Homo sapiens: one gene and its partners. The protein of the gene in region 1 purifies or fractionates together with the protein of each later gene. This does not show direct contact. Each region holds a gene or a part of one and is shown in the gene's direction. Other genes may lie near its edges.

Region 1 (3,500 bases):
AGGCAGGAGGATCGCTGGAGGCCAGAAATTCGAGACCAGCCTGGGCGGCAACAAAGCGAGACCCCGTCTCTACAAAAATATTTTTTATTTTTATTTTATTTTTCCGTCAAGCTGTTCTTTATTTCAGGAAGAGGGCAGGGGAGGGGGCTCAGTCTTTCTTGGCAGCGGCTTTCCTCATGGCAGCCAGTACCTTGCTCAGCTCCTCCCGCTTCCTCTTGGCACGGATGTGCGTCCCCACCCTTTTCTTGATGAACTTGAGGGCCCATTTCTCCTTGAAGACCTTCAGTGACTCCATGGCGCGCAGCTCGTACGAAGCGAAGCCACACACCTCCCGGATCATGTCCCGCTACAAACTTGGTGCGTTTGCTCAGACGCCCGCGGCGGCGGCTGTGCCTGGGCTTGCTCACGTTCTTGGTCACCTTGTGGCCCTTGTTGAGGCCCACGGCCATAAGGTAGCGCAGAGCCATGGCTGCTGCTCTCCATGGCGGCCGTGGCGGAAGGCCAAAAATATTTTTTAAATTAGCCTGGTGTTGTGGCTCGTGCCTGTAATTCCGGCTACTCCGAGGTTGAGGCAGGAGGACGGCTTGAGCCGGGGAGATGGAGGTTGCCGGGAGCGGAGATCGCGCCACTGCACTTCAGCCAAAAGGGGGGTAGGAGGGAATAAGTAAATAAAATTAAATAAATAAAGTGGTATCTCACTGTGGTTTTGATTTGCATCTACCTAAGGACTAATGATGTTGGGTATCTTTTCATGTGCCAGTTGGCTATTTGTGTAGCTTTTTCTTTTTTTTTTTTGAGACGGAGTTTTTTTTGTTTGTTTTTGAGACGGAGTTTCGCTCTTGTCGCCCAGGCTGCAATGCAGTGGCACCATCTCGGCTCACTGCAGCCTCCACCTCCCGGGTTCAAGCGATTGTTCTGGCTCAGCCTCCCAAATAGCTGGGACCACAGGCGCCCGCCACCACACCGAGCTGATTTTTGTATTTTTAGTAGAGACGGGGCTTCGCCATGTTTATCAGGCTGGGCTTGAACTGCTGTCCTCAAGTGATCCGCCAGTCCCAGCCTCCCAAAGTGCTGGGATTACAGGCGTGAGCCACTGTGTCCGGCCCTAAATAATGTCTTTCGATGCACGGAAGTTTTCAATTTTGATGAAGCCCAATTTATGTGTGTATGTGTGTGTGTATATATATATATGTAGTGTGTGTGAGTTTTGGGTGTCATATTTGAGAAATCATTGCCTAATCAAGATCATGATGATTTATACCTTTGTTTCCTTCAAAGAGTTTTATAGTTTTAGATCGAGATCCATTTTGGTTCATTTTTGTCCCATATGGTATGAAGTAAGGATCCAAATTCATTCTTTTGCAGTTTGATATTCAAATGTCCCAGCAGTTGAAAAGACACTTCTTTCTTTCATTGAATGGTCTTGGCACCTAGATGAAAACCAGTTGACCATAGATAGGCATATGGGTTTATTTCTGGTCTCAATGCTACTCCATTGATCTATATTTCTATCCATATGCCAGTAACACAGTGTCTTGATTACTGTAGCTGTGTAATGAATTTTGAAATTGCGAGGTGCGAGTCATCCCAACTTTGTTCTTTTTCAAGATGATTTTGGGTATTCTGGGTCCCTTGCATAATATGAATTTAGGATCTGCTTTTCCATTGCTAAAAAAATGGCATTTGGAATTTTGATAGGGATTGCATTCAATCTGTAATTTCTTTCAACAGTGTTTTATAGTTTTCTGTGTACACGCCATATATTAATTTTGTTAAATATATTCCTAAGTACTTTTTCTCTTTTTTTTTTTTTTTTTTGTAACTGAGCCTGAGCAGGACCAGAGGAGTGCTTTATTCTTTTTGATGCCATTGTAAATGTAACTTTTCTTTCATATTCAGGCTGTTCATTGCCTGAACCAGTGTATAGAAATACAACTGGTTTTTCTATATTGATCTTGTATCCTGCAACCTTGCTGAATTCATTTGTGAGGTCCAGTAGATTTTTGGTGGATTCTTTAGGATTTTCTGTATATAAGATCATGTTTGGTTGCCTTTTCTTTGTCTTGCCTAATTGCCTGTCTAAAACTTCCACTACAATGTTGAACAGATGTATTGAGAACCAACATCTTTGTCTTATTCCTGACCATAGAGGGAAAACTTTGTCTTTGGCCACTAAGTATGATGTTAGGTGTGGGTATTTTGTAGATGCTCCTTATCAGGTTGAGGAAACTACCTTCTGTTTCTAGTATGTTGAATGTTTTTTTAATCATGAGAGGATGTTGCATTTTGTCCAGTGCTTTTTCTGTGTATCAATTGAGAAAATCATGTGAGGTTTTCCCCATCTATTAGTATGGTATATTGATTGATTTTCATATGTTGAACCAACCTTATATTTCTGAGATAAATCGCGCTTGGTCTTGGTATATAATTCTTTTTATATGCTCCTGGATTTTGCTTGCTAGCATTTTGTTAAGGATTTTTGTGTCTCTGTATTCATAACCCATACTGACCTATATTTTTCCTTCTTTTTTTTTTTTTTTTGAGAGATGGAGTCTTGCTCTGTTGCCCAGGCGGGAGTGCAGTGGCATGATCTCGGCTCACTGCAACCTCTGCCTCCCAGGTTCAAGCGATTCTCCTGCCTCAGCTTCCCAAGTAGCTGAGACTACAGGTGTGCACCACCACGCCTAACTAATTTTTTGTATTTTGGTAGAGATGAGGTTTCACTCTATGTTGGCCAGGCTGGTCTTGAACTCCTGACCTCAGGCGATCTGCCTGCCTTGGCCTCCCAAAGTGCTGGGCTTACAGGCGTGAGCCACTGCACCCGGCCTTGACCTATATTTTTCTTCCTATATCTTTGTCTGATTTTGGTAACAAGGTAATACTGGCCTTATAAAATGATTCGGAAAAATGTAGTAAATATCTTGGAATCATTTTTGTAGGAGCAGTTCCCAGAAGGAAGGCATGTACATTTGTAAGTTACTTGATAAATATTTTCCAGTCATTTTCCAAAAAACCAAATTGTGTTTATTTGTGATTAACATTGCCTTTGCAGAATAGTAGTCTCTTAGAAATTATAATTCTTAATGCCTTGAGGTACTTAAAAGTTTCTCTGAAAGACAAAGGCAAGCCCAACCTTCTGCAACACACCTGATTTTAACATCTAGAGCAGCTCCAAAGGTGCTAGATGCAGCATGTTACCAGCAAATTGTTTTCGAGTGCTTCCTACATAGAACAGGTTTTCTCAGCTTTAGCACTGTTTTGGGCCAGGTAACTCTTTTGTTGTTGTTTTTGAGATGGAGTCTTGCTATGTTGCCCACACTGGTCTCAAACTCTGGACTCAAGCCATCCTCCCACCTCAGCCTCCCAAGCAGTTGGAACTGCAAGTGTGAGCCATCACACCCAGCTGAATAATTTTTTTTTCTTTCTTTCTTTCTTTCTTTTTTTTAATGTTGTTTGTTTGAGACGGGATCTTGCTATGTTGCGCAGGCTGGTCTTGAACT
Region 2 (3,500 bases), on another chromosome or scaffold:
CGGGTGGTGCCTGTGGATGAGCTCACGCGCTCTGCTGCTGCTTAGCCGTGTGCTCTTAAGCATGTTCATCTCATAGCTCTTTCTTCTATTGTAGAATGGAGATAAGCCATTGACCTCTTAAAGTTGTTGTTTTAAGTAGAGTTTATGCCTGGCACATAACGGGTACTCCATAAGTACTAGTTCCCTTTCTTCCATCTTGCCCTCACCCCCCACCCCCGCAACACACACACACAGAGGTTTTAAAACCGTTGTTAGTTAGAACTGGAAGAGATCCTGTAGCCCTGTACCCATAGTTGATTCCTTTGGAGACTGAGGCTCGGAGAAGGGAGTACTTAGCCCAAGCTCAGGTGGCTGGCAAGGAACAGGTGAGAGCACGGGGTCCCATGGCCTCCAGGACTGTGGCCTCTTTGTACACACTGTCCTTCGAGGTTTGCAGGGGCAGAATTGTCTCTTGTCTCTGGATCCCCAGCACTTACCAGGGTGTCTGCCACAGAGCTGGCTGTAAGAGAATATTTCCCAAGTGGATGGGTGGGCAGATGGATGTGCGGTGAAGGAACCCGTAGACGGGACTGGGAGCTGCTTTCCCAGTAAACCAAGCAGAAAACCATGTTGCAGGGAACCTAAGGTTGCAGGGAACCTTCGGGGCTGCCTGGCAGTGCTTTGAAGTGAGCGCCCTTCCCTGCTTCTCCCTGTCGGCGGGTCCCTGACCCTAGGAACTTAGAACTGAATTGAGAACATACGGCTTGTATCGACACAGGCCACACTATTAAGCTATGCTAAATGGGGAGGGCAGAGCACATCATAAAGGCCCAGGTAATGACCCTGACAGGAAGAGGTCCCGGTGGCCTGGAGAAGATGTGCAGGAGGTAGGACTTGAGTTGGGCCTTGAAGGCTGGAGGATTTCAGTGGACTGAAGAGGGAGGAAAGGGCATTTCAGGCTTGAGAAGCAGTTACAGGCGGGCCGATGGAGGTGGAGTGAGCAGGGTGAGTTGATGAGGCAGGAGGGAGCTTGGCTGCACTCTGTGCCATCTGTTTGTCTGGCACATCCTTTTCTTGTCAGCTCTCCATTTTCTATATAGGAGTTGTGTTGGATTACTCATAACAGACTCAGAAAAATGGCTACTCTAGCTCATGGTTTTCTCCTCCTCCAGTAATGGAACAGTCCAGGGTGGTATAGGAGCAACATTGGAAACCAAGCTCCTTCTACTCTCCCCTTCCAAGACTGGGTAATTTATGAAGGAAAGAGGTTTAATGGACTCACAGTTCTGCATGGCTGGGGAGGCCTCGCAATTATGGCAGTAGGCGAAGGGGAAACAAAGGCACATCCTACATGGTGGAAGGCAAGAGAGCTTGTGCAGGGGAATTACCATTTATAAAACCGTCAGGCCAGGTGCAGTGGCTCATGCCTGTAATCCCAGCACTTTGGGAGGCAGAGGTGGGCAGGTCGCCTGAGGTCAGGAGTTTGAGACCAGCCTGGCCAACATGTTAAACCCCATCTCTACTAAAGATGCACAAATTAGCTGGGCATGGTGGTGGGCGCCTGTAATCCCAGCTACTTGGGAGGCTGAGGCAGGAGAATTGCTTGAACCCAGGAGACAGAGGTTGCAGTGAGCTGAGATCGCACCTGCGCTCCAGCCTCAGCAACAGAGTGAGACTCCATCTGAAAAACAACAACAACAAAAAACCCATCAGATCTCTTGAGACTTATTTACTATCACGAGAACAGCCCCCATGATTCAATTACCTCCCACTGGGTACCTCCCACCAGGTCCGTCCCATAACACATGGGAATCATGGGAGTTATATTATTCCACCCCCAGGCCCTTCCAAAGCACAAGTCCTCACATTTCAAAACCAATCATGCCTTCCCAACAGTCCCCAAAAGTCTTAATTCATTTCAGCATTAATTTAATAGGCCACAGTCCAAAGTCTCATCTGAGACAAGGCAGGTTGCTTCCACCTATGAGCCTGTAAAATCAAAAGCAAGTTAGTTACTTCCTAGATACAATGGGGGTACAGGCATTGGGTAAATACACCTGTTTCAAATGGGAGAAATTGGCCAAAACGAAGGGGCTACAGGCCCCATGCAAGTCTGAAATCCAGTGAGGCAGTCAAATCTTAAAGCTCCAAAATGATCTTTGACTCCATGTCTCTCATCCAGGGCACGCTGATGCAAGAGGTAGACTCCCACGGCCTTGGGCAGCTCTGCCTCTGTGGCTTTGGTAGGGTACAGTCCGTCATCCTGGCTGCTTTCACAGGCTGGCATTGAGTGTCTGTGTGTTTTCCAGGGCAGGGTGCAAGCTGTCAGTAGATCTACCATTCTGGGGTCTGGAGGACAGTGGCCCTCTTCTCACAGCTCTACTAGGCAGTGCCCCAGTGGGAACTCTGCCTTGGGGCTCTAACCCCGTCTTTTCCTTCTGCACTGCCCTAGCAGAGGTTCTCAATGAGGGCTCTGCCCCTGCAGCACACCTCTGCCTGGACATCCCGTTGTTTCTATACATCCTCAGAAATCTAGGTGGAGGTTTCCAAACCTCCATTCTTAACTTCTGTGCACCTGCAGGCTCAACACCACATGTGAACCGCCAAGGCTTGGGGCTTGTACCCTCTGAAGCAGCAGCCTGGGTTGTACATTGGCGCTTTTTAGCCATGGCTGGAGGGGCTAGGACACAGGGCACCAAGTCCCTAGGCTGCACACAGCAGAGGGGGCCCTGGATCTGGCCCAGGAAACCATTTTTTCCTTCTAGGTGTCTGGACCTGTGATGGGAGGGGCTGCTGTGAAGGTCTCTGACATGCTCTGGAGACATTTTCCTTATTGGCTTGGTGGTTAGCATTTGACTCCTAGTTACTTATGCAAATTTCTGCAGCCAGCTTGAATTTCTCCCCAGAAAATGGGTTTTTCTTTTCTACTGCATCATCAGGCTGCAAATTTTTCAAACTTCTGTGCTCTGCTTCCTCTTGAATGCTTTGCCACTTAGAAATTTCTTTCACCAGATGCCATAATCATGTCTCTCAAGTTCAAATTTCCATAGATCTCTAGGGCAGGGGCAAAATGCCACCAGTCTCTTAGCACAGCAAGAATCACCTTTACTCTAGTTCCCAGCAAGTTCCTCATCTCCATCTGAGACCACTTCAGCCTGTACCTTATTGTCCATATCACTATCAGCATTTTGATCAAAGCCATTCAACAAGTATCTAGGAAGTTCCAAACTTTCCCACATTTTCCTGTCTTCTTCTGAGCCCTCCAGACTGTTTCAACCTCTGCCTGTTACCCAGTTCCAAAGTTGCTTCCGCATTTTTAGATGTCTTTACAGCAATGCCCCCCTCCCAATACCAGTTTACAGTATTAGTCTGTTCTCATGCTGCTGATAAAGACATAACCAAGACTTGGTAATTTATAAAGGGAAGAGGTTTAGTGGACTCACAATTCCACATGTCTGGGGAGTCCTCATAATCATGGTGGAAGGCAAAGGAGAAGCAAAGGCATGTCTTACATGGCAGCA
Region 3 (3,500 bases), on another chromosome or scaffold:
TGCAGTGGCACGATCTCGGCTCACTGCAAGCTCCGCCTCTCGGGTTCATGCCATTCTCCTGCCTCAGCCTCCCGAGTAGCTGGAACTACAGGTGTCCGCTGCCACGCCCAGCTAATTTTTTTTTTTTTTTTTATTGATCATTCTTGGGTGTTTCTCGCAGAGGGGGATTTGGCAGGGTCATAGGACAATAGTGGAGGGAGGGTCAGCAGATAAACAAGTGAACAAGGGTCTCTGGTTTTCCTAGGCAGAGGACCCTGCGGCCTTCCGCAGTGTTTGTGTCCCTGGGTACTTGAGATTAGGGAGTGGTGATGACTCTTAACCAGCATGCTGCCTTCAAGCATCTGTTTAACAAAGCACATCTTGCACCGCCCTTAATCCATTTAACCCTGAGTGGACACAGCACATGTTTCAGAGAGCACAGGGTTGGGGGTAAGGTCACCGATCAACAGGATCCCAAGGCAGAAGAATTTTTCTTAGTACAGAACAAAATGAAAAGTCTCTCATGTCTACTTCTTTCTACACAGACACGGCAACCATCCGATTTCTCAATCCTTTCCCCCTTTTCTATTCCACAAAACTGCCATTGTCATCATGGCCCGTTCTCAATGAGCTGTTGGGTACACCTCCCAGATGGGGCGGCTGGCCGGGCGGGGGGCTGACCCCCACTCCTCCCTCCCAGAGGGGGCGGCTGGCCAGGCAGAGGGGCTCCTCACTTCCCAGTAGGGGCGGCCGGGCAGAGGCGCCCCTCACCTCCCGGACGGGGCGGCTGGCCGGGCGGGGGGCTGACCCCCCCACCTCCCTCCCGGACGGGGCGGCTGGCTGGGCGGGGGGCTGACGCCTCCACCTCCCTCCCGGATGGGGCAGCTGGCCTGGTGGGGGGCTGACCCCCCCCCCAACCTCCCTCCCAGACGGGGCGGCTAGCCGGGCGGGGGGCTGACCCCCACTCCTCCCTCCCGGAGGGGGCGGCTGGCCGGGCAGAGGGGCTCCTCACTTCCCAGTAGGGGCGGCCGGGCAGAGGCGCCCCTCACCTCCCGGACGGGGCGGCTGGCCGGGTGGGGGGCTGACCCCCCCACCTCCCTCCCGGACGGGGTGGCTGCTGGGCGGAGACGCTCCTCACTTCTCAGACGGGTCGGTTGCCAGGCAGAGGGTCTCCTCACTTCTCAGGGCTGCCGGGCAGAGACGCTCTTCCCCTCCCAGACGGGGTCGCGGCCGGGCAGAGGCGCTCCTCATATCCCAGACAGGGCGGCGGGGCAGAGGCGCTCCCCACATCTCAGATGATGGGCGGCCGGGCAGAGACGCTCCTCACCTTCCAGACTGGGCAGCCAGGCAGAGGGGCTCCTCACATCCCAGACGATGGGCGGCCAGGCAGAGACGCTCCTCACTTCCCAGACAGGGTGGCGGCCGGGCAGAGGCTGCAATCTCGGCACTTTGGGAGGCTAAGGCAGGCGGCTGGGAGGTGGAGGTTGTAGCGAGCCGAGATCACGCCACTGCACTCCAGCCTGGGCACCATTGAGCACTGAGTGAACGAGACTCCGTCTGCAATCCCGGCACCTCGGGAGGCCGAGGCCGGCGGACCACTCGCGGTTAGGACCTGGAGACCAGCCCGGCCAACACAGTGAAACCCCGTCTCCACCAAAAAAATAGGAAAACCAGTCAGGCGTGGCGGCGCGCGCCTGCAATCGCAGGCACTCGGCAGGCTCAGGCAGGAGAACCAGGCAGGGAGGTTGCAGTGAGCCAAGATGGCAGCACACAGTCCAGCCTCGGCTCGGCATCAGAGGGAGACCATGGAAAGAGGGAAAGGGGAGACCGTGGAAAGGGGAGAGGCAGAGGGCAGAGGCAGAGGCAGAAGCATTTTTTGTATTTTTAGTAGAGACAGGGTTTCACCGTGCTAGCCAGGATGGTCTCGATCTCCTGACCTTGTGATCCGCCTGCCTCGGCCTCCCAAAATTCTGGGATTACAGGCGTGAGCCACTGTGCCTGGCCTGTAAATTGTTTTATAGAGATGGGGTCTTGCTGAGTTGCTCAGGCTGGTCTTGAACTCCTGGGCTCAAGTGATCCTCCCACCTGGGCCTCCCAAAGAGCTGGGATTACAGGCGTGAGCCACCGCGCTCAGCCCCACACATGGGTTTCAAGCCCCTTGCAACCACCCAGCCAAGTCCAGCAGAGAGACAGGCAGCTCGTGAGCTCCACTCAGCATCTCTCCATCTGTCCCCTGGCAGTGTCACCCGCAACTACCTAGACTGGCTCACGTCCATCCCTTGGGGCAAGTACAGCAACGAGAACCTGGACCTGGCGCGGGCACAGGCAGTGCTGGAGGAAGACCACTACGGCATGGAGGACGTCAAGAAACGCATCCTGGTGAGCCCAGTGTCTGGCCTGTTGTGGATTTGCATGTGGGTGCCCGGGCCCAGGACTCTTGTGTGCTGTGGGTTGAGATTTCAAAGGAGCCCCCTGGTGAATTCGTAGGCCTGGGGGTGCTGGTCGGGGGGATCCCGGCGGAGGTAGCATCCTGCCCTGCCCCCGAGGGCTCGAGGATTTCCCAGGTGGACTGAAGTCATGCCTGACGGGCCGGGCATGGTGGGGCTGCTTGTAGTCCCAGTTACTCAGGAGGCTGAGGCGGGAGGATCACTTGAGCCCAGGAAGTTGAGGCTGTGGTGAGCTGTGATCATGCCACTGCACATCAGGTTGGGTGACAGAGTGAGACCCCCATCTCTACAAAAAATTTTAAAATTGCGGCTGGGCGCTGTGGCTCATGCCTGTAATCCCAGCACTTTGGGAGGCTGAGGCATGCAGATCACCTGAGGTCGGGAGTTGAAGACCAGCCTGACCAACATGGAGAAACCCCATCTATACTAAAAATACAAAATTAGTTAGGCGTGGTGGCGCATGCCTGTAATCCCAGCTACTTGGGAGGCTGAGGCAGGAGAATCGCTTGAACCCAGGAGCCAGAGGTTGCAGTGAGCCCAGATCGTGCCATTGCACTCCAGCCTGGGCAACAAGAGTGAAACTCCGTCTCAAAAAGGAAAAAAAATTTTTTTTAATTAGCCTGGTGTGATGTTGCGTGTCTGCAGTCCCAGCTACTTGGGAGGCTGAGGTGGGAGGACTGCTTGAGCCCGGGAGGTGGAGGCTGCAGTGAGCTGTGATGCACCACTACACTCCAGCCTGGGTGACAGAGCGAGACCTTGTCTGAAAATTAATTAATTTTAAATTAATTTTTAAAATATCACTCCTGAGACATTGGAAACCAGGCAGGCAGGTGGGAGTCAAAGGTTAAAAAACAGGAGTCAGAGCCTGGGCATGGTGGCTCACACCTGTAATCCCAGCACTTGGGGAGGCCGAGGCGGGTGGATCACAAGGTCAGGAGTTCGAGACCAGCCTGACCAACATGGTGAAACCTCGCCTCTACTAAAAATACAAAAAAAGTAGCCAGGCATGGTGACTCACACCTGTAATCCCAGCTACTCAGGAGGCTGAGGCAGGAGAATTGCTTGAACCCAGGA
Region 4 (2,268 bases), on another chromosome or scaffold:
CTGCGCGCTGAGCCCTACCCTGCGGCGGCCGGACGCTTCGGCGCAGGGGGCGGCGCGGCGGGCGCGGTGCTGGGCATCGACAACGTGTGCGAGCTGGCGGCGCGGCTGCTCTTCAGCACCGTGGAGTGGGCGCGCCACGCGCCCTTCTTCCCCGAGCTGCCGGTGGCCGACCAGGTGGCGCTGCTGCGCCTGAGCTGGAGCGAGCTCTTCGTGCTGAACGCGGCGCAGGCGGCGCTGCCCCTGCACACGGCGCCGCTACTGGCCGCCGCCGGCCTCCACGCCGCGCCTATGGCCGCCGAGCGCGCCGTGGCTTTCATGGACCAGGTGCGCGCCTTCCAGGAGCAGGTGGACAAGCTGGGCCGCCTGCAGGTCGACTCGGCCGAGTATGGCTGCCTCAAGGCCATCGCGCTCTTCACGCCCGGTGAGCCACGCTCCGAAGAGGGCCGCGGGATGGGGGGACCCAAGGGAGGTTAGGAGGAGGGCGGCCTGGACCCAGACTCCGGCCCCCATAGCGCCCCGCTCGCTCCCTAGGCCTGGGGCCCTGCACGCGCCGTGAGTGAACGCTCTTGGGTGGCTGTAGAGGGGTGATGTAAGCAGTGTGACACTGTGACACCCCCACTCCGTGATCCCAGGACTCTCGGAGAACTCTGAACCCCGGACCCCAGACCCAAGGCTGGGCCAGGACCAGGGCCCAGACCCCAGAACCCTCTTCCTGTTCCCAGGCTCCCTGAGACCCCTACTCCCTCACCAAAGGGCTCTTCAGGCTTAGTGAGCACTGATAGCACAAGGTTGGGGGGACGTGGGAGGGAAGGTCCTGACCCCCTGGTTCTGGCCCCCTCAGGCCCCCACTGGGCTCCCAGGGCAACCTCCAGGTAGCCAGGGTTGTAGGGATCTGGGTAGGGGCGTGGCTCGGAGGCCCCTCCCGTTGAGGGGCGGGGCAACCCCAGAACTTTCTTAACCATCAGCTATCTAGCAGTGGTAGCCCATCGTATTCCAGCGACTGGCGGTACAGCCAAATTTTTTTTTTCCACTTTATTTTTTTATTTGTATTTCCATTTTTTGAGACTGGGTCTCACCCTGTCACCCAGGCTGGAGTGCAGTTGTCCGAACACGGTTCACTGCAGCCTTGATCTCCAGGGCTCAAGCAATCCTCCCTCACACTTCAGCCTCTTGAGTAGCTGGGACCACAGGCGTGCACCACCATTCCCGGCTAATTTTTTTTTAAACGTTTTCTGTAGAGACGTGGTCTCACCGTGTTGCCTAGGCTGGTCTTGAGCTTCTGGGCGCAACCAGTCCTGCCTCAGCCACCCAAAGTGCTAGGATTACAGGCATAAGCCACCATGCCTTTAGACAAAGATCTCTCCAGCCTGTCTCCTGGGAGTTCTTTAACCTACTGGAAGTCTCTAGATCCCATCAGAGGTATCTTTGGGGCTAGGAACCAGATCCAGGCTACTCTGGGAGGTGGCTTTCATTTGATAAATATGGTTTTGGGCCTGCAAGGTGGCTCAGGCCTGTAATCACCGCACTTTAGGAAGCAGAGTTGGGAGAACCACTTGAGCCCAGGAGTTCGAGGCTCCAGTGAGCTCTGATTTTCCCACTGCACTTGAGCCTGCGCAACAGAGTGAGACCGCGTCTCAAAAATCAATAAATATGGCTTTATTTATTGTTTTCCCAGAAGATTTTTTTTTTTTTTTTTTGAGACGGAGTCTTACTCCGTCGCCCAGGCTGGAGTGCAGTAGCACGATCTCGGCTCACTGCAACCTCCGCCTCCCTGGTTCAAGCTATTCTCCTGCCTCAGCCTCCTGAGTAGCTGGGATTACAGGCACGCGTCACCACGCCTGGCTAATTTTTGTGTTTTTAGTAGAGACGGGGTTTCATCATGTTGGTCAGGCTGATCTCGAACTCCTGACCTCATGATCTGCCCGCCTCAGCCTCCCAAAGTGCTGGGATTACAGGCGTGAGCCACCGCGCCTGGCCTTCCCAGATTTCTTCTTGGCTTCCTATCTTGGGTCTCTCTCTAGAGGCTGCCACATTCTCTCACACCGTAGGCCCTTCTGGGCTCTGTCTTCCTCATCAAATTCCCTTCCCAGCCCCACCTTCCCTGCGAGCTTCCTTAGAACCCATCTCCTTGGCCTGGCTGGTGGCCCTGTAATCCCAGCACTTTGGGAGGCCGAGGTGGGGAGATTGCTTGAGGTCAGGAGTTCAAGACCAGCCTGGCCAACACAGCAAAACCCGTCTCTACTAAAAATACAAAAATTAGCTAGGCGT

Evidence for each region. Proteins that work in one complex are often made in the same cells at the same time.
Region 2: the proteins of DCAF4 (region 1) and NEIL2 purify together in Homo sapiens (affinity purification with mass spectrometry; one large-scale study listed by BioGRID and IntAct). This does not show direct contact.
Region 3: the proteins of DCAF4 (region 1) and LONP1 purify together in Homo sapiens (affinity purification with mass spectrometry; 2 studies listed by BioGRID and IntAct, with this or other methods). This does not show direct contact.
Region 4: the proteins of DCAF4 (region 1) and NR2F6 purify together in Homo sapiens (affinity purification with mass spectrometry; one large-scale study listed by BioGRID and IntAct). This does not show direct contact.

The regions. Positions count from the first base shown.
Region 1 is NC_000014.9:72,929,464-72,932,963, forward strand, and holds part of DCAF4 (DDB1- and CUL4-associated factor 4), read left to right. Parts: intron 1-101; exon of another isoform or gene 102-293; coding exon of another isoform or gene 294-357; exon of another isoform or gene 358-501; intron 502-3,500. UniProt on the Homo sapiens protein: May function as a substrate receptor for CUL4-DDB1 E3 ubiquitin-protein ligase complex.
Region 2 is NC_000008.11:11,772,710-11,776,209, forward strand, and holds part of NEIL2 (endonuclease 8-like 2), read left to right. Parts: intron 1-3,500. UniProt on the Homo sapiens protein: Involved in base excision repair of DNA damaged by oxidation or by mutagenic agents. Has DNA glycosylase activity towards 5-hydroxyuracil and other oxidized derivatives of cytosine with a preference for mismatched double-stranded DNA (DNA bubbles).
Region 3 is NC_000019.10:5,699,647-5,703,146, reverse strand, and holds part of LONP1 (lon protease homolog, mitochondrial isoform 1 precursor), read left to right. Parts: intron 1-2,219; coding exon 2,220-2,358; intron 2,359-3,500. UniProt on the Homo sapiens protein: ATP-dependent serine protease that mediates the selective degradation of misfolded, unassembled or oxidatively damaged polypeptides as well as certain short-lived regulatory proteins in the mitochondrial matrix.
Region 4 is NC_000019.10:17,233,652-17,235,919, reverse strand, and holds part of NR2F6 (nuclear receptor subfamily 2 group F member 6), read left to right. Parts: coding exon 1-421; intron 422-2,268. UniProt on the Homo sapiens protein: Transcription factor predominantly involved in transcriptional repression.